Linked DNA regions of Homo sapiens. The protein of the gene in region 7 interacts with the protein of the main gene of each other region in a pairwise test. Each region holds a gene or a part of one and is shown on either strand. Other genes may lie near its edges. The genes, in order: SYT17, STK3, NOTO, RAB17, FASTKD3, DAPK2 and FAM9B.

Region 1 (3,500 bases), on a different chromosome or scaffold from region 7:
TACCACTTCGAGGATTTCAATTTTTTCACAAGCCACGTACCACCTATACTATGATGATGATGATGATGATGATGATGATGATGATGATTATGATTATTATTTTAGACAGGGTCTCACTCTGTCGCCCAGGCTGGAGTGCAGTGGTGCGATCTCGGCTCACTGCAACCTCTGCTTCCCAGGTTCAAGTGATTCTCCTGCCTCAGCCTCCCCAGCAGCTGGGATTACAGGCGCCTGCCACCACGCCTGGCTAATTTTTTGTATTTTTAGAAAAGAGGGGGTTTCACCATGTTGGCCAGGCTGGTCTCAAACTCCTGACCTCAGGTGATCCACCCGCCTTGGCCTCCCAAAGTACTGTGATTATAGGCATCAGCCACCACGCCCAGCCCTACCTATGCTATTATTAACTTAATTTTTTTTCTATAAATGGGCTCATTTTTATTTTTACTTTAAAAAAATCATATGAAAAGGAAACATTATGTCACTAATATCATAGGAAACCAAGATCATGTGACATCGCAGAAGGCAACTAGAAGAATAAACCCAATGGGAATAATGCCACATTACTGAATTCTAGGTGGACGTGGCTGTCTCCAAGCCTCTGGACAAGATCTACTTTCTTTGTTTAAAAGAAAGGGGATGGGGGAGGGTGGAAATTGGTAAGTGGTAAAAGATGTTAACATGTAGTGGTACCAAATTGAGACTTTCTCCTCCTTAAAGGAGAATCGGAAAAAAGATAATAACTTTCTCCCTCTTGATTCAAAGTTCTGAGTTTGAGTCCCACCTCAGTTCACCTCTGGGACATGCCCGAGGTTGGGATGCAGTACTTCTAACCTATCTAGCCTACTTGGCCCATTTGGAAAACCACCTTAAAGAGAAGGAGGGAGTCTGTGCCTTGAGAACCCAGGAGACGAAGATGGGGAGGCGGGGTGGGGCCACAACAGGAAGGGAGGACCTCCTTCCTCAAGAGGACCAGATTAGGGCTTCCTTTTTAGTTCCCTCTATTTGTGGGTGGTGATAGGAAACACCCCACCATCACCATTGGAGCAGAATTGGAAGGTAGGGCCTCCGGGAGGGCGGGGGAGCCAAGTAACATCCACTGTGTGCCTGCCTGCATGTTAGCTAATCATGTCCTTTTGGGTTGGCTACATGGCTATTTCTGTATAGGAAGGTTTGCTCTTCTCCTGAAGTGTGGCTGCATTGGATAGCATGACTATCTATCCGCCCGCTCTGATTCATAACAGCATACGGTGCAAATCAAATCGAAATGCTAAAGTTTCCCATTTATTTGGTGTTGGTTAACCAGGAGGCTACCAGCAGCCCTGAAAATAGCAACACCTTGTTAGGATGTTAGGAAGTCAGCTCCCTTCCCAGGATGGTAAGTGGAAATATGCAGGGCTTTTTTTTTTTTTTGTAAAATTTTTTTGAGTTGCTGGAATATTGCTAAACTGGTCTTGTCTCTCTTTCTTTAACCCCTTCGTTCCCTTACGCCCTTGGCTTCATCGTGGATCTTAAAAGGGCAGTTGGAACCATTAAACGAGGTGGGTTCATTTGATGATTTGTTTGGTCTGGTTTCTAATCAAGAAATGCCTGACTTTCATTTTGGAGTCTTATGTGGGGCTGTGGGGATATTGAATATTCAACAATAACCTGGTGTTAATAACGGCACAGTTTCCATTCCTTTCTACCGAAAGGAGATCCCGGTTTTGAAAAGACACCAGTTGACAAGACAAGTTTCCCTCTCCACCCCTACTTATTCCGTTTGATTATCTCTGTCTGTTTCATGTCACCGAGATTTTTTAAAAATATTTTTTCCCCTGCTTTCAAGAAGACACAGTAATATTCATTGTGTTTCGAACATATCGTATAGCCCTTATGATGTTGTATAAACCACCCACATGTCAAGAAAGACGTTCACATAAACTACAAAAGAAAATACCTGCAAATGTTTTGCTTGCTACTAACGGCTCCAGCGAGTTGATGTTTGCTATCTTTGTGCCTGCAGTTGGTAAATAGAAATGGAAAACATTTTGTTCTAAGTGCTGAGCAGCAGAGCCAGAACTCCTGAATGTCTATTTCTCATCCGAGATCGGCTGCTTGTAATTTTGGGTGTTGTTTCTCCTCTTCCTCTTCCCCACCCTGCCCACCTCCCCTCTCCCCCATCCCCCCGCCCACCTCCCCCAATGGCCTCAGGGTTTTCTTTCTAGAATCTCTGGTCTGCTGCTGTGCAGATGGACCTGCCGGCACTGCTGTCAGAAGTGCTACGAGTCCAGCTGTTGCCAGTCAAGTGAGGATGAAGTTGAAATTCTGGGACCTTTCCCTGCTCAGACCCCTCCCTGGCTGTAAGTAAAACTGCTCTGAACTTCTCTGAAATCAATTTCAAGACTTTTCCTTTTTAATGAGAAGGCGGGTTGGGGGTCTGGGCCACGGGAGGGAGGATTTGGGGGCATGAAAGAGAAGCAGGCTGAGTTTCCAGGGACAACTTTGCTGCAGACTGGGGATATGTTCTGTACCCCTCATTTTGTTCGGCAAGCTGGCGAGACCAGCTGGTGGTGTGGTTTTAGTTCACCTAGTGGCACATCGGGCCTTCTGAGATACGAACCGTGTAATGCTAAGCGTGTGGGCGTTTTTAGTCACGTGGAGCGTGGTTCCGAGCAGAAAAGGAGATCTGTGAGCCGAGCCTCTATATTCTTCAGGGGCTGACCGCATTCTGAGGGTTTCCATCCAAGTCAGCGTGACAAGATTCCCTAGCACTTAGCCCAGGGCCTGCACATAGTAAAAGCTCGATAAATATCCATTGCATGGATGGGTAGACGGAATGAACAAACAAGTGCCTTTTTGCTGCTCCGAACAAGAACTTCAGAAACAGGGAAGCAGAAAAGCACCTCCAGGCTCCATCCTGTCCTCCAACGCTGTTTATGTTCTCTCTGGCATCTTTCGTTTTATTTCTAATTTGCTCTCCTCCCGCGCCTGCATACAACATCTCCATCTGCCAGTCGCTCAGATATTTTGGGAACGCAGTTTTGAAGCTTCTCAGCCACGTGCCTGGTCCACCTCTCCGTGACTGAGAGAGGGACGTGGTCAGAGAGCCTGGGTACAGTCAAGAAGGTCGGGGCTGGGAAGGATCAAGAAGTCATCAAGTGAGCTTGTCATGCTTCGGAGGGGCAGGCCCAGAGAGGGAGACAGACAGCGGCCAGGACCCACAGCTGGAGCCTGGCAGAGTGGAAGGAGGCAGCGCTGTTTCAGCTCAGTCCTTGGCCTGAGATTCCAAAAGTCTCTGGTGTCCCATCTTTCCCTCCAAGCTGGGGGCTCATGCCTCAGGCCTCTCATTTTCTCTTCTTAGAAGCAAGTATCAAATATTTCCATAGCAAAATGGTTCTGTATCCAGGCTCTGTGGTCTCAACTACTATTTCGAGTTCTGTGACCTTGGGCAAGTGGTTTGATCTCTGTGTGCCTTGATTTCCCATCTGTGAAATGGGATGATAAAAAGAATAGTATTTCTC
Region 2 (3,500 bases), on a different chromosome or scaffold from region 7:
GTATGACTTTTTGTCACAGAGATTTTAGTGAAAACCAATTTTGAAGTTGAACAGATAAGTGGTTTTTATAGCTGCAGTTGTTTTATGGACCTCAGCAAATTTTAAATCCCATGAGCCAACTTTCTGTGTTTTTTGTTTTTACAAGTTAGACATCATTCTGTAATGTGAGACTTCAGTGTTTCCAAAATTCTAATCAAGTGATGTTAGTATAACCCCTAGGGATTGTCATATTGTAGTATAGCAGTAGTAAAGTATGTGAAGAAGTTATTGAGGGAAGACTTACTTTTTCTGAAACCATATAATTATTGTAGTTTTGTTTTTCTCGTGATCTAAATCTTTAAAACTTCTTAAATTAGTTGGTATGAGGTCTCAGCTTATGTCACATCAGTCAAAGCCACATTTGCTAATGTGTCTTTAGCATTTTTGTTCCCTAATAAGATGATAGCAGTATATTATTTTTGGTTTTCTAAAATCTCTACAATGTGTACTGAAGATTTAGAATTTCATCTCTTTTTCCATTGGAGTTTCAAGTGAGTTGCCTGATTTAACATCCTTGTCAGTTTAAATTATGTTTACACTTACTCTTTTATACCTTTAACCATGAAGCTAGAAATTATGGGCCTATTTTCCTTACCTCTAGAAAGGAAAATTACCCACAGACCCTTTGAAGGGAAGTGGAGAAAAATGACAAAAAGTATTTTAAAATTTGATCTGCCTTTTAAAAAATGGACGTGGACCCTATGGGCATGTCCCAAGAATAACTTTCTAAACCTGTTTTTAGCAATGATGGCATTACTTTTACCCTCCCGCTCCCAGTCTTCCTATTCAGATATCCCTAAGGCCTCCTCATTCCCCATGGAATGTCCAGGCTTCAGCTGTGTCACCAAGATCCTTCACAGTCTGGCACTAGCCATTATTTACATGTGGATCTCTACTTCTTCCTTATGGATTATGTTTTATCCATACTAGTCTGTGCCAGTTGGAATTCTGAATGCTTGACACTGGGTAAAAGCAGGTTGGTTGTCATTCAAGAAAATCAATTTAGGATTTATTATCCTGGAGTAGATTAGGACCAGGTCAAGAATCTATGTCATCAAACTGATGGGGTAGGAGAGATTATTTCATCATGGGTGACTCTGGGAGAGTAGTAGCTTCAGCAAAGAAAGACTGGGGCTTTTTAGTTTGTTCAGCTCAGATCTACTCAGTTAGCTCTGTTTTTATGGAGGAACTTTCTGATCTTACAGAGCTGTGGCTAGATTGGTAGCACTAGTTGCCCTGGAGGGAAACTATGTCTTATGGGTATCTGAGGAAGAGCCATATTTTCCAGCCAGGTTTTTATTTTTCATGTGTGTATCTGTTGTTTCTCCAGATAAGTCACGAAGTTTGTCCTGGTAAGAATGCTGTATAAATCTCCTCTGCCACATAATAGTACATGCTCTTGGAATATTGGTTTCATGAATGAATACTAATTACAGTAGAGTCAGAGTCAAGCTGTGTGTGTGTGTGTGTGTGTGTGTGTGTGTGTGTGTGTGTGTGTGTTATAGTAGAATTAAAGATACATAGCTCTGGAAGCTAAGAGAACTTTCAGGTAAACCTCCTGCCTTGGTAAGATACTTTCTTTTCAAGTGTTCTACCATCCCTGCTTCTCATTTCACAGAGCAGACCCTCTGAAAATGTGTTCCTTAAGATACCCATTCAGTGAAATTCTCTGATAAATATAGATAAATAATATACAGTAATCAGAATTATTTGGGAAATGCATATTTATCCTAGAGATAAATTATTAGAGAACTACAGTATATATTATTAACTTATTAAATACAAATAGTACAGGAAGGAAACAGTTTAAAAATTACATTACCCAAACTTTCCTTCACTTATTTGACCATGAAAAGCTTTTAATGAGGAACGTATCAGTGATTAACATCCTGTGTAATAAGCATCTGAGAAACACATTTTGGGAAATGCTATCATGAGAGCCCTCTAGTTCCCTGACCCTAGTTCCTAGTCTGCTTTCTTTTTATTAGCACACCCTCCCTTCACTTCTATATCCAGCTTAGAGGCTATATTTCATTATTTCGTTGCTTCTGCCACTCTCGTATGTTCTAAACTCCTCTTAGAGGCTATATTTCATTATTTCATTGCTTCTGCCACTCTCTTATGTTCTAAACTCCTCTTAGAGGCTATATTTCATTGCTTCTGCCACTCTCTTATATTCTAAACTCCACTGCCCTAATGTCTTGTCTTTTCTGCCTCTCCTGGAAAACTTTGATATGGTCCAGTCTCAGTGTTCATCTTCTCTGCATCTTTACCCTGGCTATTGAGTGCTGCTGGAGATAATCTTCCATCTGCACAGATGAGGGCTGCCAGATCAAGACCTTCTCCCCCATTTGGGCCCTCAACTTTCCTGGAGGCCTGTGTTTCTCTGTTCAGCAATTCCTCATTCTACAGAGTGGCTAGTTTAGATCTTCACTAGATCTCTTCTTCCTGCCTCCCATCTCAGTTTCAGTAGATGACGTTGCTCCCTACTTTACAGAAAAAAAGTGAAATGTTATCATGCAAGTACCTAGAGAAGCTGTATAGGTGTTTTAAATGTGGTCTTTGGAATAAGGTTGAAAAATTGAGTCATTCTTAATTTCCGTTTCTTCCTTCACCCTTCATGGAAGTAACATCTCATCAGTTCTGCCCCCTAAATATCCCTATTCTCTTCTCATGATCTCTGCTTGCATTTCTTTAGTGCAAGTCCTCATAGTTTCTCACTTGTGAGGCTTCTAAACTGATCCTCTGCCTCCAATCTTCATTCCCTCCCCACCATACAGATTTCAGCACATTTCTCTTCTGCTTATGCCCTCCCAGTGACTACCAATTGCTTATAGGCTAAAGCTCAACACCAGTTAAGAAGCAGTATATGCTCTGGTTCCTACTTACCTTTCTATTCCCTCTTCATCCTTCTTCCAGCTTCTCAGCTCTTACAGAGCTTTTTTACCTTTGGCCACTTGCAATGCCTAAATCCTCCTGTGGGATTTATGCTTCTTTTGCTAAATCATATTCATTCACTCAGGCTCAGTTAAGAGGTTGCTTCCTCTATCAACCCCAGGTTAGGAATAAGTGCCCCTCTAATAGGCTCCCATCTCACCCCAAGCTTTCACTCTTACAGCACTGTCATGCTTTATTGTGAGCGTGTGCTTTTGTTTATTTCCCACTGTATTTTTGATACCTAATACAATACCTAGCACTTGGTAAGAGTTCATGAAATGTTTTCTGAACAAATGATGTGGTATAGTGAAGAGCATGGGATGTGAAGCCAAATCATTTAGTAATTGTGTTGCTTAATTCTGTCTGAGTTTCAGTGATAAATATTTGTCTCTCTGTTGTGTGTATATGTGCAGGTGTGTGTATTAGGTAAATTCAAAACATGCCTAGCAGTGTTTTAAATATAGTTGATAATCAATAAAGGATAATATTCATCTGTCCACCCTATTAATTTATCCTTCCAACAA
Region 3 (3,500 bases), on a different chromosome or scaffold from region 7:
CCTCCTAAGTAGCTGGGATTATAGGCACCCAGCTGATTTTTTTGTATTTTTAGTAGAGACAGGGTTTCACTATGTTGGCTGGGCTGGTCTTGAACTCCTGACCTTGTGATCTGCCCACCTCAGCCTCCCAAAGTGCTGGGATTAGAGGCGTGAGCCACCGCACCTGGCCACATCTACTTAATTTTACTGGCAGGTCCTTATTTAGCATGGAAATCCTTTATTATCAATTTTTAGACTAATAATCTAAGTTAACATTCCAAGTTGTTCACATTATGTGACTTCAAATGGGACTTTTTTTTTTCATTATATAGAGTGTGCAAAAAGTCAGGGCCTGTCCCCTCAACAGCCTGGCACAGGGAAGAGGGCCCATATCTTCCTCCCACCCTCCTTTTAGGGCCTTGCTGAGGTAGTGTTTGTCCCCAGGTGCAGCCCAGGCCCAATAGGAGTCCCTACTCCCACCTGGTTCTCTGTAAGTTTGAGCCGAGCTGCCAGCTGGGCTCTCTTCTTCCCCACCAGATTGTGCTGTTTTGCAAACACTTTCTCCAACTCTTCCAGCTGCTCCAAGTTAAACATAGTTCGGACTCTCTTTTGCTGTCTCTCAGTGTCCTGTAGGTCCTCCGTTGGGGCCCAGTCTGGGAAGGCCCAGAGTCCTGAGCAGTGAGCCAGCTCCAACCCTAAAGAGCAACCAGCAGCAGGGGAGGTTATCCAGCAGCAGGGGAGGTTAGCCAGAAGCCCCCTGCACTCCCATCTGGGCAAAATGAGAAGGCACACACAGCTCTGCTACCTTGCCTTCCCCTTGGCCAGGTAACAGTGCAAGAAGACAGTGGAAAGAGACTGTGCAGAAATAACAGGAAACAAACAAATGGGAAAGAAGGGACAATGCAATGAGACTGTCTGCCACCACTACTCTCTAGCCAAGTGGCTTCACTTCTGGCCCCTAAGAGGAGTTGCCAAACCTCCCTTCTCTTTGCCTTCCTTTCCTCTCCTTGACTGCTTCTGGCAACGCCATGGAATGGGCAGAGAAGAGACCCCCAGGGGTTCACCCTTTTAATTCACTGAACAAATATTATACTTTTTGAATGTCTACTGTGTGTCATGCATGGTTTCAGGACAAAACAGAAAATCTCTGTCGTTATGGAGCTTACATCTTAGAAATGAGGTCAGAAGAGATAGAAGTCAGAAGAGAGGGTTGAGCTGAGGATACAAATTTGGGAGTCATCACTGAGCACGTTGGCTCATGCCTGTAATTCCAGCACTTTGGGAGGCTGAAGGGGGCGGATCGCTTGAGATCAGGAGTTCAAGACCAGCCTGGCCAACATGGTGAAACCCCGTCTCTACTAAAAATACAAAAATTAGCCAGGCATGGTGGCACATGCCTGTAATCCCAGCTACTCAGGAGGCTGAGGCAGGAGAACTGCTTGAGTCCGGGAAGCAGAGGTTGCAGTGAGCCAAGATAGAGCCCACTCTACTCCATCCTGGGTGACAGTGCAAGACTCTGTCTCAATTAAAAAAAAAATTGGGAGTCATCAGCTTATATAGATGGTATTTTAAGCCACGGGAATAAATGAGACCAAGCTGTGGGCCAGTGGAGATGCATCAACCAAGAGCAGTTCCTAAGTCAAATCTTGATGGGGATGAGGGAGTGAGCCATTGGGCTATCTGGGGGTATAGTATTCTAGGCAGAAGAATGGCAAGCATAATGCTAAGGCCACTCAGCCCCCACTAGCCTTGGGGAGTCCTCAGGGCTGGCAGACAGACTGCCCCAACAAAGGGAGTGTATCTGGGGTCCCGGCTGCTTAGGACTCCAACCACTGGGCCCACTAGGCTTACACTGTGCCTGCCAAGGTAGACCAAAAGATCAGGAAAAGCCCATCAGACATACAGCCTGGTGTATCTAGTCAGCCTTGTTTCAGAATCAGAAATTGACCTTTGGAGAAGAAAGTAGGCTGTACTGTGTGTTCCTTAAGAGCTCTAGTTGAGGCCGGGCATGGTGGCTTATACCTGTAATCCCAGCACTTTGGGAGGCTGAGGCAGGCGGATAGCCTGAAGTCAGGAGTTCAAGACCAGCCTGGCCAACTTGGCGAAACCCCGTCTCTACTAAAAATACAAAAATTAGCCAGATGTGGTGGTGGGCACCTGTAATCCCAGCTACTCAGGAGGCTGAGGCAGGAGAATCGCTTGAACCTGGAAGGCGGAAGTTGCAGTGAGCCAAGGTTGTGCCACTGTATTCCAGCCTGGGTGATAGAGTGAGACTCTGTCTTAAAAAAAAAAAAAAAAAAAAAAAAAGCTCTAGTTGGAATCCTAGCTCTGCCACCAATTACCAGCCAGAGGACCTTGGGCAAGACAATGTACTTCTGTGAGCCTTGATTTCCTCACATGTAAAATGGTGATAATAATCCCTACTTCCAGAGATGTCAGGATTTTAACATGGTGCTGTCTAGGCACAGTGGCTCATGCCTATAATCCCAGCACTTTGAGAGACTGAGATGGGCCCATCGCTTGAGCCCAGGAGTTTGAGACCACCCTGGGCAACATGGTAAAACCCTATCTCTACAAAAAATACAAAAATTAGTCAGGTGTGGTGGTGCACAACTGTAGACCCCGCTGCTTGGGAGACTGAAGCAGGAGGATCACTTGAGCTCGGGAGGCAGAGGTTGTAGTGAGCCAAGCCGAGATCACTCCTTGCCAATAGAGTAAGACCCCGTCTCAACAACAACAACTACCACAACAACAAAAACAAAAGCATATGATGCTTACAGGGTGCTTAGCACTGTGCCAGGCACAGAGCAAGAAGAAAGTCAATGGTTATTATAAAAATTAAAACAGAAGTGATAATCCAATGGGGAAGAGGGATTATTTCCAGATCTGGGAAAAATTAAGCTGGATCCATACCCAATACCTTGCACTAAAAAAAATCTAAATGGAGGAAATATTTAAATGTAAAAAGGTAAACCCACAAAAATTTAGAAAAAAATGGGGAAGTTATTTTATGACTTCACAGTGAGGAAGTTCTTTCCAAGTATCATATAAGATGTGGGGCCAGGCACAGTGGCTCATGCCTGTAATCCCAGCAGTTTGGGAGGCTGAGGCAGGAGGATCACTTGAGCCCAGGAGTTCAAGATCAGCCTGGGTAACATTGTGAGATTCCATCTCTACAAAATAAATGTTTTAAATTAGTCGAGTATGGTAGCGCATGCCTGTGGTCCCTGCTACTCGGGAGGCTGAGACAGGCATTGTGAGATTCCATCTCTACAAAAAAAAATGTTTTAAATTAGTTGAGTATGGTAGCGCATGCCTGTGGTCCCTGCTACTCAGGAAGCTAAGGAGGAGTGCTTAAGCCTGGAACATTGAGGCTGCAGTGAGCCGTGATCGCACCACTGCACTCCAGCATGAGTGACAGAGAACCTGTCTCAAAAAAGAAAAAAAAAAGGATTTGTAAAAACACATCAAACATAAAAATTAAAATTTTTTCTATGTAACAAAAGAATACCGCCATAATC
Region 4 (3,500 bases), on a different chromosome or scaffold from region 7:
GGGTTCCAGGCATGTTTGGGATAACCACCCGAGTCTACTATGTGGAACCCTTCTTCTCTGATGGGTAGAGAGCCCTAAACCCTCCTGTTCTGGACTCCATGACTCTCAGTCACTTTCTCTCTAGAACGATCTTCTTGGTATCTAGGACTCAGTCCTATTTGTTTTGAGATTGATTCCAAACTTGATTCCCTCCCCTCTTATCCCTGCAGGGCAGACCAGACCAGTCTGTGGCCATGGCTCCTTACTGGCGGCAGTGAGGGCATGTGGGCTGCTTCCAACCACTCCTGCTTTTCTTCTTTCCTTTTCAAAATTCCTCCCCTTCCCCCTTTAGGGAGCCTCCCTCTTGCCCACTGTGGTGAGGAAGGGAGAAGAGACTCTGTTCCCAGGACCAGCTGCCCCTGATGGGTTTCATATTTTTTGTGGGGAGCTTCTCTTCCTAGATAATAAACACAAAGTGATAACATTAGAACATTATTAGAATGTCACCATTTTGCAACCCCTTAGTAAAATAGTGGGTCGAAGTAATAGTCTTCAGTGACTGCCAACATCACAGAAAGACAACTGGACATTATTTGCCTTCTGTGGGAAGTGCACGCACACTCTCATGGCAATCTTGCCAAAAAATAGCCTGTATCTAATCAGGTTTATGTCCTGAACCACCGCGGTATCAAAAATACAGAGTTCATAGGACTCTATTCAATAACACAGGGGTGTAATCAGCAACATCCGTACTGGAAATCTACAGGACAACCTGATTTCTTCAACACATGAACTGCAAAGAAAAAAAAATACCTGTATCTCTACTGAGATTTGCAGATGATAGAATGCCTGGGATCTGCTTTACACAGTACCCTGCAGGGGGAGGTTTGGGAGTGTGAGTGATACAAATGGCTGAGCTGATTACTGGGGAAGCGGGAGGTGGGTCTATGGGCCCATCGGACCGTTCTCTCTATTGTGGTGTGTACATGAAAGTTTCTATGATGAAAAATACGCAGGGGTCGCCCACGTTTATTTTGATCACGAAGTTGGTTTTCTCTGGGGCATATTACTGTGGGTTCTGAGGCTTTAGACACAATGGGAATGTGTCTACGATGTTTTGAGATCATTGAGACACCAACCTTTTTTTAGGTAGATTTTTTCTGAAACACCAACTTTAATCCATGAACAACCACCCAAGAAATGCTCAGATGCTTTTTACCTCTCCTTGCATTAGATACTTTGGGGACAAGTAATAGATTTGTAAAAACTGAAAGTAATGGAAGGAGGACAACAAGCCCTGAGACCGTCACATGTAATCATTGCTTTTCAGGGTCTGCAATGACCCGTGCCCGGAGCTTTCCAAGCAAAGCTCCTTTTGTTCCTTACCACAGACCTAAAAATGGACCTAAAAATTGCAGATGGGGAGATGGGGCATGGGGTGCAGAGGGAAGCAGGAGTGTGGACCTAGGTGGCCTCTGAGTTGGGAGCTCTGTATTGGGCCATCTGCTCCTGACCGAGAAGCAGCCCCGGGGTTGAGCTTGCTGAGATGATGTGGCTCCGATGTTCCACTTGCTTCAGACGGTTGTGATTCTTTGCAGGGCATGGCACAGGCACACAGGACCCCCCAGCCCAGGGCTGCCCCCAGCCAGCCCCGTGTGTTCAAGCTGGTTCTCCTGGGAAGTGGCTCCGTGGGTAAGTCCAGCTTGGCTCTTCGGTACGTGAAGAACGACTTCAAGAGTATCCTGCCTACGGTGGGCTGTAAGTGAGGGCAGAGCACCCCTTTGTTGGTCTTCAGTGCAGAAGTCTGGGCTGCTGACCCACACCTGGGGCAGATGGGGACGAGGCCCACCTAGGAATCCCCATGCTGGGACCTTGAGCTGCCTGTGTCCAGTGCGTGAGGGGAGGGGGTGAGGTCCAAGAGGGCAGCCACAGAATCTACAAAGACAGGAAATGCCCTTGGCTCTGGGTCAGGTTTCAGCTCAGCTGGAGTCTGCAGGGGGTGGAGATTCTGGGGTAGGACCTCTGGCCCCAAAGGGTCGGGCTGGGTGCGAGGGATTATGCTGGTGGAAGGGACAGCCCGGAAGAAGCCTCCTGGGCCCTGGCCACTCAGCGGCCTAAACCAGCTGTCCTCTCCCACCACCCAGGCCGCCCTCCTGCTAACACTGCTCCCTTGCTTTATTTACCCCAACAGCATCTTCCTTCCTGCCTGGACTTGGTTTACCAGCTTGGCCTGGATTGGGGGTGGGAAGATCATTTTGGGGGTGGGCGGGGAGGGAGACCTTCTCTCTGTGTTTCTTAAAAAGGCTAACCTGTCATGAAGCTCAGGAGTAACTGTATGGGGCATCTGCAGGCTGCTGGCCTCCTTCCCATCCTGCTGTGGGCACAGTCTGCCTAGGCAGTGAAACCCAGTTTTCACCTGAAATGGGGAAAGCCAGCGTGTTCTTTATGCCCATTCCCCCTGGGGGAACACATGCAGAATCAGAGCCTCGGTTTCAAATTCGGACTCTGACATGGATAAGCTGCACATCTCCAAATTCACTCATTCATTTACTCATCTAACAGGCATCTGTTGAGCATGAACCCTTTTGCAGGCCTGCGTTAGGTGGGATGGATTCTATAACCAGCTAAACAGATGCACCAAACACAGAAACACAATTGCAAGATGTGGCACATGACGTTAGCTATTTAGGGAGCCCTTCCATTTTCTCAGGGGGGTGGTTCCTGAAGGATCCCCAGGGGATACAGGGGAATTGGCAGGGGTCTGCCTGGCCCGACTCCCAGAGCTAGTGGTGAGAAGGGCCAGGGTGATGGTGAGAGGCTGTCTGCAGAGGGGGACCCTGGGGAGAGAGTCAAGGTTACCCTGTGGTGTGCAGTACAATCCTCTTCTCCATTAGCAAGGAGATCTGTACCCCTCACCCCCCAAGTCCTGATATTGGACTTGGCTTCCTTTAAAAATACATCAAAATGCCAAGGCTGGCCTGAGGGTGGCCTCAGTTGAGAATAGAGCACACAGATGGGGGCCTCACCAGGCCTGGATGTTGAGAGCTTTGTACCTGGGTGGCTGGTATTCAAGATGCAGAGAGAGGCAGCAGGTGTCAGGCCAGGTGAGCTGGACTGGGGATGGATCTCACTCTGACACGGAGGTCTGCACACTGTGGCTCTCTGGCTGTTCTTGTTGTTTTGTGAGTAAGGTTCTGTGGAGACACAACTCTACCTCTTCAGGTACTTACCCTCTGTAAATGATATTCTTGCTGTTCCTCCTCCTCTATTCACTCTAAAATGGCAGCAGGGTTGAGTGGTTGCAGCAGTGACCCCATGGCCAGTAAAACCTAAAGTATCTGCTACAGGGCCTTTTACAGAAGGACTCCATGACGCCACCCTAGCAGAGCCTGCAGGAGCCAGCGCCCAAAGGCACTCACTAGGTGAGCGCAAGCAGGGCTGAGAGATTCCGAGATGCCCGGTTGGAGCGTAGGAGGGTGCTTTGGATTCATTGAGACGTGCTTGGACGTGCTCAGCCCACA
Region 5 (3,500 bases), on a different chromosome or scaffold from region 7:
GGTCTAAATAAAATAGTACCTGGAACGTAGGAAATGCTCACTAATTGTTAGCTACTACTATAACCTAGGCTTGTACTGTCCAAATATAGTAGCCACTAGACCATGTGGCTATTTAAATTTAAATTATTAAAAGTTTAAGAAAATTCAATTCCTCAGTCACATTGTAAGTGCTCAGTAGCCACATGTGGCTCATGGCTGCCAAATTGGACAGCACCATTATAAAGATTTCCACATCACAGAAATTTCTCCTGGACAGCACTGACAAGAGACTCCAAGTCCTCCGTCCTTACAGTTCTTCTAACTTGATGAGCAGAAGAAAGCCTTCTCGTAAAGGACAGCAGTTCATAGGCTTCAGATGGTCACTTCTCTTCTCTTTACGAAGGGAACTGCAGTTTACCAGAGGGGAAGGACAGTTCGGAAGCCTTCCGTGCTCGCAGACCAGGTGTCTGGGTGTGGCATGCTTTCTTTACTTACCATGGAGGCACTGCAAGTTGGAATGATGGAAGTTATGAGTTGCACAGATGTCTAATGTCTTAACTCAAGGGTTTTCTTCACAGTCTGGATTGAAGGATCTCTGCCACCTATCATAAGGGGAAAGAGAAAGCATGCATGGTTCTTGTCATACCCCAGATAACTTCAGAACCCATTCTGTGGTTTAGCGTTATTGAGCTTTCTTAATTTAAGGCTGACTTGATTGATCATAAAGCCAATTGAATTAAAATTCTCACCATTGTTTGGTTGTGGTCATTACTTTGCAGCCTTCAGTCCAATTGATCAATGCAAGGTGGAAGGAATCAAAGCAAAGCAAAGGAATGAATACAGGAAGATAGTGTTTGTGAGGGTATCACACGAGGAATTTTTCCTTTCTTCTCTCACCAGATGTTGAAATTAAATTAGATGAAGAAGGATTTGTATTGCCATCCACAGCTAATGAAGATATCCATAAAAGGTACAGGAAAATGTTGTGTTTTTCACATTACAAGACTCGTTGAGGCTAATAAGCAGCGGTATCTTTTTCTCAAGAAGGTGAAAAAAATAGATATGATTCTGGAAATTAAAATACTACATTTCAGAATACCATGTTGGGAAATTCCTTGTAATATTTTATAAACATTAATATTAATAAGATCAAATTCATGATTCATTTGAAAATAATATTGGCACATAGTAATAGCCAAATCCCAAATAAACTTTGGCAACTAAAATATATAATAAATATTTTGGATTATTTAAAAAATTAAGTATTTTTCTCCTTTTTTATTTTTCAGGATAGCACTGTGTATTGATGGTCCAAAAAGGTTTTGCTCCAATAGCAAACACTTACTGGGGAAAGAAGCTATTAAACAAAGACACCTACAGTTACTCGGTTATCAAGTTGTTCAGGTACGGTTTCACCTATTTTTTTTGTTTCCCAAAAGCAAATCCTATTTCAAAATTATTTTTCCAGGTTACTTTTAAAAAGTAATCTGAGGCACAGTAAAATTTTAAAGAATTTGATCAGGCAGCAATTATTGAACTGGACAGCACAAAACTCGAAATGGCTTGGGAACCCAAGAGGGAGGCTTTTATAGGAAGAACACAAGTACACAAAGAATCTACTTGACTGGTTACAGTTACATATTCTTGCTGCCTTGTTTGAACTATTCTGTGGAAAGTTCCTAGTTATATAATTATTAGTTTGTGAGATGCTTCTGATTGGTTGAGCTTAAGTTCTGTTTTTCTGTAGTAGAAGCTTCTACAAGAAATAGCCCAAGTTAAATTTTGCTTAACATTTGCACTTTAAGCAAAGTTAAGGTTATTTTCAAGGCCCAACTGGCTTGGTCTGCTCAGGGATTTTTCAGGCACAGGCTCCATTTTAATTTGCTTTTACAGTACTAACTGGTTTGCCAGCCCAGTGGACCACCGATCTTACGTCTAGTTTAAATCCCAACGTTGTTAATTCGGCTTAAATCTCTTGACTTATATTTTGAAATACAGAATTTTCAGAGCTTTGATTTTTCAAAAGTGGGGCCTACCTATATTCATTATAAGCTATGCTTAACCCTGCTTTTAGAATTACTCAATTGTTGGAATATATGTTCTGTTTTAATTTCTCCTTGATTTAATAAATAAAAATGAACAAGATAATCCATTAAAATAAGGAGCTTCACCAACACTTAATATTTAAGACCTTTTAAATATTTCACTGTAGATAATGTAAGAAGGTCTTATGTGAGGGCTCAGCAGTGCGTGAGAATGAGCGCTGCCCTAATTCTCTAAGCTGTCAGTACTAGGCAGCACTGTGGTTTCATATCTGCTGACTTTTTTCTCCATCTTGCACATCCCCAGCTGAATATTCCTAAAACTAATCATGCCAGTGTCTACTCAGAAGCTTCAATGTTTCTTTACTGCTTACAGAATAAAGTAAAAACTTCTCTACATCTTAACATTCAAGACCCTCCAATGGTTGGCCTGCAGCCAGGCTGCAGGCACATGATTACTACCTGGCCCCTCTGCTCCCAGCTGAGCAGACTCTCTCCTTTGCTGCGCCTCCTGCTCTCTCCCTCTTCATTCCCTCTTTGTCCCTGCTGCGTCCTCCAGCTCTCTGAATACCTACCTTCCAGCAGTTTGTCGGCATCCCCACCCTCATCTAATGAAATGCTCACTCCCTCTTAGCACTAGATCACCAACCTACAGCTTGTTTTTTATATTTATTGTGTAATTTAACTTGCCACCCAAGTTGTGAACTCCTGGAGAACAAGAGATCATGTTTAATTCTTATTTGCATATTCTACATATTAATTCATCAAATATTTACCAAGCCCCTTCTCAGTGCCAGGCACTGTTCTAGACATTGGGGATACAGGATGAAGAAGCTGGTTGGGATATTTGCCTTCCAGGAGCTTACATTCCGCTGTGGGGAAGCGTGTAAGAAACAAACAAAGTAACCAATAGCCAGAGGAACCTCAGATTTTGAAGGATCTTGACCAGTTTTACTTTTCTACCTTTACAGATCCCCTATCATGAGATTGGGATGCTAAAATCAAGACGTGAATTGGTGGAATATTTACAAAGAAAACTGTTTTCTCAAAACACTGTTCATTGGTTGCAAGAATGAATACTGACTTCAGAACTCAAACAATGGAAGAACTTGCATTTTTATGGAACTCAGTATTAAAAGAAAAATATAATGTGAATTAGCCACTTTGCAGAATATGTTCTAGACTGGTGATCTGAAAGCATCTGTAGTTTTCCTTATACTATGTATACATTTATTGTGGTAAAATTTAAAATTAATTTTAATTTAATACTAGTGTCATAGATACTTTTTGTACATCAAACAATTGATCATGTGCTGTAAAGGAATTCAATGAATAAATGTTATTTTTAAGTATTTTGTCATAGTTATCTGCTAAATGAAAATATTTTGCTCTTTAGAGACCTTTTGTTTTCTAACAGATGGAGGAAATTTTTTCTCTTTGTGTGCTGTGAGTGGAAGTGAGATTTACCGTAAGGAAAAG
Region 6 (4,158 bases), on a different chromosome or scaffold from region 7:
TTTTGTATGTGATCAAAATTTTACATAATTTTTTAAAATGAGACTAATGTGAGACAAATGAGATAACCCATGTGTAATGTTTTAAACGGTCCATGGATAACGTGAATTCCTTCCCTCCTCTTTGTGACTTGGAGCCCCATAAGGGCAAGAATTGTGACATTCCTACCTCTGTCCCCTTGTCGTAGGCTAGTACACAGTAGGCACTATATAAGTGTTGGCTGATTTTAACTTAGTTCCCCAGCCTCCTTTCTCAAGGCCGCTACTCAGATGCTCATCAGGTAAAACAACTGATAGCCACTTCAAGCACTTTCCTAACACCTCTCCTAAGGCGAATTTGCATTTTACCAGTTTAGAAACAAACTAAAGGGGTGAAACTGAAGTGGAATTATAGTCACCAGCTAGGACCCAGATAAGGAGCCAGAGGCACAAGGACCTTTCCAGCCTCGAAAAGCTGAAATCACATGGCAGAGGGAAGGGACACAGTTACAACTTTTGGCCAGAAGCACAGGCCATCAGCTCCAGATGCTCCCAGGATGATACCCACCTTAATGCCCATGTTTCTCCTGATGGAGTCCTTGGAATTCAAATTCCTGCCTACAACTCTAATACCAGGCAACACTTCAGGGGGCTACCACAGATTTCCTAGAACCCCATAGATCATCTATTTAGGGATTTTTAGAACTGCTTCAGGATCACCAGGGTGAGAAGGGGAAGCCAGAGCAGTTCCACGTTATCCATACTATATGTTGGCGTTCTGGGTAAGAATTCACTGTGAAACAGAAGTTTGAAAACCACTGCTGTCTGGTCTAACCCACTTGTTTTTACAAGAGGAAGCTGAGATCCAGAAAGGGGAAGGGACTCACTGAGCATCATACAGGTGACCCATCCCGCTCCTCTTCCCAGGGCTTCTTCTGTTGATAGCCACCCCAACTCCTCCAAGATGTCACCAGGGTTGGCAAAGTCAGTGGCCTCCTGAGGGACAAGCTAGGAGGAGGTGTCTAGGGCTGGAAGATCACCTCATAGGAAACTCTCAACACTCAAGAAGCCCTCTCCACCACTGGCCCAGCTCACTCTGCAAAGTGAACTCTCTCAGTTCCTCATCCCACCTCACCAAGTGCAAGTGAGTGAAACGGGACCACAGCAAGAGGGCAGGCAATGGTTGGGCAAAACACACACGACCGTCTCATTACACACACCCCCATTAGGAATCATCACACTCAGGCTCTGGAGAGGCTGCCAACAGAAGGGATGGGGCTCCGGCATTACAGAGCTCCTCTCTACATTCCAGGCTTTGACCCATCACAGTCTCCAATGAGGAAGCTGGGGCCCACAGAAGGTCAGCCACCTGCCTGAGTTGACACAAGAAAAACTTGGTCTCTCTGGCAAAGATCCAGCTCCCTTGGGAAGCCTGCTTGTTCACCCCACAGCTAACAAATCGGGAGGCCTCAAGGAGGTGGGCAGGGTCAGTGCGGGTCTCATTCCTGCCAGCCAGGAACTTACCCCAGAGGAGCAGACCTCCAGCCACATCCACACACCCCTGACCCCTCTGCCCAAGTCTCCTCTGAAGGTGCTGAATCATCAGTGGTGCCACTTGAGGGTGCTCAAAAAACATCTTGGGAGATGAGCGGTTTGGGGAAGGACAGGGCTGTGAAGTTAGCTGTGAAGAGGCCAAGGCACCACGGCCTCTTAGGTCAACAGGACTCTCCCAGGAATATCTTCCACAGAGGCAGTTGGGAGTCGCAGTGTCAGAAACCAGAGTGGCTGCCCTCCACAGGATTCCAGGATACAAGATGTCAGGCGCTGTCCCTGCACCTGCCCGCTTGCCCCCGAGGCAGCCAGCTATGGTGCCCTCTCCTCCAGTGTGCACCACTGCCTTACCATTACCTGCACGGCCTCAACGAGGCTCACCTCTCTGGACCTTGTTTTCTCTTTTGTAAAGTAAGAATACCAATTTCCACCGTGCAGAGTTACGGTGAGGGTTAGCCAGACCTATGCAAGCCTTGGGACCTCCAAAATGCCTAGCCCAGAGTCCTAGTCAACTGTTGGCAACGCCCTTCCAAGCCGTTCCACCCCAACCTGCAGCACACCTGCTGGCCGCCCCCACGCCCATCCTAGCTCTACCCCAGGCCGGGGCGCCTGACGGCGGGGACCCCAGCTTCATTCAGCCCCAGAGGAAGCTCAGACATCTGAGCACCCTCCTCGCATCACATCCTTGTGCCAGGCGGGAGCAAGAGGTGAGAGAGTCAGCCCAAGCTGAGAAGACTTGGCCGGGAGCCGGGCGTGCTCTGCCCGTTCCAGGGGGCCTAACTCGATGGACGTCTGTCTCCCATCTCCCTGCTGGGTGCTTGGCTCTGCCCGCCGCCTCTACCCTGTCTCCCAGGTCAAAGTGCCAGGCTCCGGAGGGCGCCCCAGGGCAGCGGCGGGCAGCTCCCGCGCTCGGGTGCCGGCCACAATGCCCCGGGCCACGGCGTCAGGCATTGGGGCGGCGGGCCCGGGATCTGCGAGCGAGTGCCCCGGATCTCTTCGCCCCGCCAGCCCCAGACCCGGGCGCTGCTGCCGTCAGGCCGCGCGCCCCGTCCCGCCCATCGAGCCCGCAGACGGGTGCTACTCACGGCGGGAGGCTGAGCTGCCGCGGTCGCGGCCGCGGCAGGCGCGGCGGGAGCGGCGGGCGCGGCGGGCGCGGCGGGCGCGGCGGGCGCGGCGGGAACGGGGGACGCGGCGGGGTGCGCTGGGCTCGGCCCTGCAGTCCTCTCCTCCCAGAGCGCCCGGCACCCGCCCGCCGAGCAGCCTAGGAGCCGAGGGGGCGGAGCGGCCAGCCCCGTCCCAGGCGCCGGCTGGAGGCGCGCCCGGCTGCCCGGGACGGGGCTCGGGGCGCCCCCTGCTGGAGCCCCCTCCGGACAGTCCCGGGGCGAGAGCCCAGCTTCCCGGCCGGGTAGGGGACACCTCAGGGCTCCCAGACTCCCGGGAGAGCGGGGAGAGTCGGTAGCAAGACCCTCTGCGCGTCCCTACCGGCTCTACCGCGCACATGCTGCGTGGCCTTGGGCAAGTCGGCTACCCTCCCCCGGCCTTATCTGGAAATCGATTTGAATGAGCTTATACGTATGACATGGTCTGGCACAATCCTCAGAAAATGGTACTTGTGTGCTCCTCTCCCCACCATACACACCGTGAGCGAGGAAGCCCCACTGAGGAATAGGCCGTCTCCTCCCTCCCAGCCAGAGCGCTCCCTACACCGCAGACTCTCCTGGAAACCTCAAGCCCACAGCGTACAGCAAGGTGGGGGCTGCGATGAGAAGGGCCGCTCTGCTCCTCACTGCCCCCGACCCAGCCTGAGAGCGGCCTGCCCTCGTTTGCCCTTTGTCCTGGCACGGTTGCTGAGTGAAGCCCCCCTCTCACCATCACGCCTTCTCTAATAGAGGACTTGGGAATGGGTTCCTCTCTCTGCCCTCTGCCAAAAAATCCCTGAGGAAAAAAGGAATGAGAGTGAGGGGGTGAAGGGAGGAAGGAAGGGAAAACAGAACTTAAGCCAAGTTCATTTGTCTTATTTCAAAACAAGAGGCTGTTTAGAGGAAGCAAATGAGGACCCCTCCAACCCCTGGAATTTCCATCCCTAAGTCACCCATGGGGCTCCTCAAAAGGGCCTTAGATTCAGAGTCCTACCACCAGGTTCAAAGCCCTGCCCTGCCACTCCGCATGTGTGTTCTTGGGCATGGCTCTTTCTTCATCAGTAAAGTGGGAGAAACGCACCTTCCGGTAGCTCCTAATGAAGCTATGGTGGGGCTGAGATGAGATGGAGTGTGTAAGATGCACCTAGAGGACCTCTACCAGTGTGAGCACACACACACCCTTCAGCCTTTTGGACATTGGGACAAATACAGATGGACCCCACCCCCCAGCTGAGCAGTGCCTCCGGGTCCAGGACATCCTCGGCAAAGAGTTCCTTGTTTATAAACTTCACAATAATTCAGAACAGTGCAGCCAGCGAGCCTCCTCTCCTAAGAGCAGCATGATATATAGAGTAATATCCAAGACTAGAGGTGGTTTCTGATGTCAACGGACCTAAGGGAATGACACCCACTGGTGAAGTTTCACCAACATGAGAAGTCCCCCACCAAACTATCCCTAAACACCTCTTCCTCCATTTCCATTTACCTATCA
Region 7 (3,996 bases):
CCTTTAGAATGCGAGTTTATCTCATTCATATTTCTTGCTCAACAGATTCACTTGGCCTTAATTCTGTTCTTTTATGTTATGTTATGGTCTCTGTAGTATTTTCTTTATTTTCCAACTTTTACTACAGGATTTGTATGCTTTGTGTGTGCTCTTTTTGGTTATATAGGCATTTAAGGCTGTGGATTAGTTTTCCTGATGACTGCCTTTATAATTTCAATAGTATAATGAAACTCTGTATCTTGATTTACAAACTTTAGGCAATATTTATTCACTCCCAACTCCGAAACAACTCTCTCCCTATTACAGGGGATCGGAGGTGGGAAAAAGCTGAGTTAACGATAAGTATTAAGGCATTAATTTGTGGGTGAAGGTTGTGGCATATGTCTGGATAAGTCTGGAGTATGAAGGTTTGTGGGCAAGTCTGGGGCATGAGGATGAGAAAGAAAAGTAGTGAGGAAACAAAAAAGGTTATGGGCTGGGCACGGTGGCTCACGCCTGTAATCCCAGCACTTTGGGAGGCCAAGGCATGCGGATCAACTGAGGTCAGGAGTTCGAGACCAGCCTGGACAACATGGTGAAACCCTGTCTCTACCGAATATGCAATAATAATAATAACAACAACAACAACAACAACAACAACAACAACAACAACAACAGGGCGTGGTGTTGGGCTCCTGTAATCCCAGCTCCTCGGGAGGCTGAGGCAGGAGAATCGCTGGAACCTGGGAAGGGGAGATTGCAGTGAGCTGAGATCTTGCCACTGCACTCCAGCCTGGGCAATAGAGTGAGACTCAGTCTCAAAAACCAACAAACACAAACGATAAAAGCACAATCCATTGATTAAAAAGGACGCAGCTGGGCATGTTGGAAGCACACAGGGCATGGGAGGGAGCCTGGGCTCCACCCACAGGGTGATGGCCATTCTAGCCAAAGGGGCAGGGGTGGCTGGAACAAGCCCCAGGGCGAGGTTCTAGGCCCTGTCCACTTGGCCTCCATCCCAAGTCCTTGTGTCTCTCCCCAGGAGGAGAAGCTGAAAGATTGTGGGGACAGAGGCCCCAAAGGGCCACCCCCACCCCAGTCCACAGCAACCACGGGCTGTCACTTAGGGGAAGGGTGAGGGCGTGCCAGCAGGGGGCCTGGCCCCACACAGCCCGTCACACGCATGTGCACTGAGCCGACCAATCAGCGAGGAGCGCAGGAAGTCCTGCCTGCAGCTCTCACGAGAACTGAGGACCCGTTTTCTTTACTTTTCTTTTTTTTTGTTTTTTTGTTTTGTTTTTTTTGGGACGGAGTCTGGCTCTTGCTGCCTAGGCTGCAGTGCAGTGGTGTGATCTGGGCTCACTGCAACCTCCGCCTCCTGGGTTCAAGCAATTCTCCTGCCTCAGCTTCCTGAGAGGACCCGTTTTCTAAGAGGTCCTAGTGGTGCCGCTGCCTGCAGGTTCTTTGAGGGCGCCACATCAGGGGTCCCTCAGGTGAAGCACTCGTGGTGGGGAGGCGGGAACGCAGGCACGAGGCCCTCTGGGAACCAGGGTGTGAAGCGCTGGGCAGCCCGCCGACCTGTGAGGAAATGGCCCCAGCGTCGTCGCCTGGGGCCTGGGTCAGGGCGAGGCCCTGAGGGTGGGCTAGGGTGGGCTGGGGTGGGCCAGGGCAGGGAGGGAGCTGGAGCTGCCTGGGTGATCCCTAGGGCCCGGGAGGGTCCTGGGGGCTTGTGCATGTGTTGGGGGGAGGGGCCGAGGGGGGGAGAAGTGGGAGTGAGGCGGGGGTGTTGTGGGGGACAGTCTGAGTGGGGCCCTCCTGCCTGGCCGCCCGACAGGACAGGACACTTGGGGTCACCGGGGGTCACCGGGGGTCCCCTGTGCGTCCAGGGGGGCGAGTGGCAGTGCAGCCCCTGACATTCCCCTAGAGGTGGCTGGGGAGATCCTGTGTCACCCAGCGGCCCTCCCAGCCACATGGGGTCGCTAGGTGACTCAGAGGTAGGGCTGAGTTCTGTCCCAAAAGGGCGGCGAGGATCCCGCAGAGGCCGTGGAGTTCAGGTGTGAGGGGCAGCTGTGAGCTTTGCAGCCAGCCCCGGGGACGGGCTGGACGGGCCAGGACAGGAGGGGACACTGGCATCTTTTCCGTCCCTTCCTGCTCCCACATGAGACCCAGGGCGGGCCAGCCCCACCCTTCTTGAACCTGTGATCCCAATGGCTTTCCTTTCCGATGCCAGGTTTCCTTAGCTTCCTTAGTGTGTCTTTGCGCTCACCAGGTTCGGGGATCGCCTCTAGCTTCCCAGGACAACCAGCCACGGATCCTGTGGGCAGGAGGGCTGCCAAGGCCCAGTTGGAGGCTCAATTTATGGCGGCCTGGGGGAAGAAGCATGCAGGTAAATACAGCCCAAGGGGACCCAGAAGAAGGTGCACGCCCAAGAGGACGGTCTGTCTGCTTTCTGCGCTGGGGGCACAGGGGCAGCCCGAGGCCCCAGGCCCCTTCGTGGCTCTGGAGTCCATTGTGCACGTGCTAAGATGCGCCAGGTTTTCAAAGCAGGCTCAAGGGCCTTAGGCTTCCCCGTGGAAGGCTCCCCCTCATAGCAGGGTTACAGATGCTCTCAGAGCAGCTCTTCTCCATGGGTGCAGTCCTGACATCCAAGGGGTCTGAACTGTAGTACGTTGTTTACTGGAACCTGAACCCGAAGGGCTTCCAAAAGTCCCTCGATAAAATGGTCAGGAACCGGTGATTCCATGTATAGCTCTGCTTTAAAGCTTTAATTGGCAGAGAGCCCCCCCCCCCCAAAAAAGTCTACAACTAGTACATTTCTCCACAAAAAATGTCCACAGCAGCATCTTCCTCTAAAAAAGGTTTGTCTTTTACATTTTAATGCAGGAAAGGATCCAGTCCGTGATGAATGTGAGGAAAGAAACCGTTTTACAGAAACAAGGGAGGAAGATGTAACTGATGAGCATGGGGAAAGAGAACCTTTTGCTGAAACAGATGAACACACGGGGTAAAGTGTTTAAGTCACTTTTGCCTGTCGGATAGGGTCTTTTAGGAAAAGTCAGCTTTGGACCATGTCATCACTGTTCTATTCTATGCAGAACATTTCACATAAGACATTTCTTTTCCCAACAAACATGGCATTTTGTGTAGTATTTTGTTAAAATTTTGATGTAACTTTTTTTACAGGGCTAATACCAAGAAGCCAGAAGATACTGCAGGTATGTTTTAGGAGTTATCTGTAGTTTATGAAAATTGTTTTCAGTCATACAACTGTTGCAGTAGGTTATATGAATTAGTGGACGACAAGACTGTCTTAAATGGCTTCTCATATGTAGCATTTAACGTACGTATTTAATGTAATCTATTTGATAAATTTTTCTTACCTTTTTGATTGTTGATGTGGAATGTGAGAATGCTTCTAATAATGGTGAAGCGAGATGGATGGCTTTTCTTTCATACATGTGGAAATTTAATTGTTTGGAGGATATTAGAGGACAGTGGAGGAGAAACAGCTCTATTCGTTCCTTTTAGTATACACAGATTAAGTCATATATCAATGGTTTTTTTTAGCTTTTACTTTAAGTTTGGGGGTACATGTGGAGGTTTGTTATGTAGATAAATTGCATGTCACAGGGTTTTGGTATACAGATTATTTTGTCACCCAGTTTATAAGCATAGTACCTGATGGGTGGTCTTTGATCCTCACCCTCCTCCTACCCTCCACCCTCAAGTAGGCCCAGTTGTCTGTTGTTCCTCTCTTCCTGTCCGTCTGTACTCAGAGTTTTTAATATGAGTTTTTCATGTTCCTAATTTAGCTGTTCTATTGTCACAGCTTTCTGATTTTGTTTTCTTTAAAGTACAAGAGAAAATTGAATTTTCTAAAATCATTTTCTATTATTATTCCAGTAATAAACTGTGTAGTAGAAAAGTAAGGACAACTTTTCTACCTAGTGAGAAACATGTAATTGGCTCCAAAAACTCATAAACTTTATATTGCTGTGTGAAATATTAGTTACACTC

What was found.
Region 1: the proteins of FAM9B (region 7) and SYT17 interact in binary tests that used the Homo sapiens proteins (3 or more experiments, as listed by UniProt).
Region 2: the proteins of FAM9B (region 7) and STK3 interact in binary tests that used the Homo sapiens proteins (3 or more experiments, as listed by UniProt).
Region 3: the proteins of FAM9B (region 7) and NOTO interact in binary tests that used the Homo sapiens proteins (3 or more experiments, as listed by UniProt).
Region 4: the proteins of FAM9B (region 7) and RAB17 interact in binary tests that used the Homo sapiens proteins (3 or more experiments, as listed by UniProt).
Region 5: the proteins of FAM9B (region 7) and FASTKD3 interact in binary tests that used the Homo sapiens proteins (3 or more experiments, as listed by UniProt).
Region 6: the proteins of FAM9B (region 7) and DAPK2 interact in binary tests that used the Homo sapiens proteins (3 or more experiments, as listed by UniProt).

Annotation. Positions count from the first base shown.
Region 1 is NC_000016.10:19,171,240-19,174,739, forward strand, and holds part of SYT17 (synaptotagmin-17), read left to right. Parts: intron 1-1,095; exon of another isoform or gene 1,096-1,344; coding exon of another isoform or gene 1,345-1,375; intron 1,376-1,389; exon of another isoform or gene 1,390-1,515; coding exon of another isoform or gene 1,516-1,520; coding exon 1,521-1,538; intron 1,539-2,190; coding exon 2,191-2,339; intron 2,340-3,500. UniProt on the Homo sapiens protein: Plays a role in dendrite formation by melanocytes.
Region 2 is NC_000008.11:98,542,689-98,546,188, reverse strand, and holds part of STK3 (serine/threonine-protein kinase 3), read left to right. Parts: intron 1-3,500. UniProt on the Homo sapiens protein: Stress-activated, pro-apoptotic kinase which, following caspase-cleavage, enters the nucleus and induces chromatin condensation followed by internucleosomal DNA fragmentation.
Region 3 is NC_000002.12:73,205,574-73,209,073, reverse strand, and holds part of NOTO (homeobox protein notochord), read right to left. Parts: intron 675-3,500; coding exon 460-674; intron 1-459. UniProt on the Homo sapiens protein: Transcription regulator acting downstream of both FOXA2 and Brachyury (T) during notochord development. Required for node morphogenesis.
Region 4 is NC_000002.12:237,584,235-237,587,734, reverse strand, and holds part of RAB17 (ras-related protein Rab-17), read left to right. Parts: intron 1-1,577; 5' UTR 1,578-1,580; coding exon 1,581-1,737; intron 1,738-3,500. UniProt on the Homo sapiens protein: The small GTPases Rab are key regulators of intracellular membrane trafficking, from the formation of transport vesicles to their fusion with membranes.
Region 5 is NC_000005.10:7,859,032-7,862,531, reverse strand, and holds the end of FASTKD3 (FAST kinase domain-containing protein 3, mitochondrial), read left to right. Parts: intron 1-474; exon of another isoform or gene 475-581; intron 582-728; exon of another isoform or gene 729-758; coding exon of another isoform or gene 759-879; coding exon 880-949; exon of another isoform or gene 950-1,047; intron 1,048-1,268; coding exon 1,269-1,383; intron 1,384-2,992; coding exon 2,993-3,097; 3' UTR 3,098-3,373; downstream 3,374-3,500. UniProt on the Homo sapiens protein: Required for normal mitochondrial respiration. Increases steady-state levels and half-lives of a subset of mature mitochondrial mRNAs MT-ND2, MT-ND3, MT-CYTB, MT-CO2, and MT-ATP8/6.
Region 6 is NC_000015.10:64,043,686-64,047,843, forward strand, and holds the start of DAPK2 (death-associated protein kinase 2), read right to left. Parts: upstream 2,801-4,158; 5' UTR 2,613-2,800; intron 1-2,612. UniProt on the Homo sapiens protein: Calcium/calmodulin-dependent serine/threonine kinase involved in multiple cellular signaling pathways that trigger cell survival, apoptosis, and autophagy.
Region 7 is NC_000023.11:9,031,328-9,035,323, reverse strand, and holds the start of FAM9B (protein FAM9B), read left to right. Parts: upstream 1-1,196; 5' UTR 1,197-1,472; intron 1,473-2,040; exon of another isoform or gene 2,041-2,202; coding exon of another isoform or gene 2,203-2,337; coding exon 2,338-2,365; intron 2,366-2,862; coding exon 2,863-2,983; intron 2,984-3,162; coding exon 3,163-3,194; intron 3,195-3,996. UniProt on the Homo sapiens protein: May play a role in meiosis.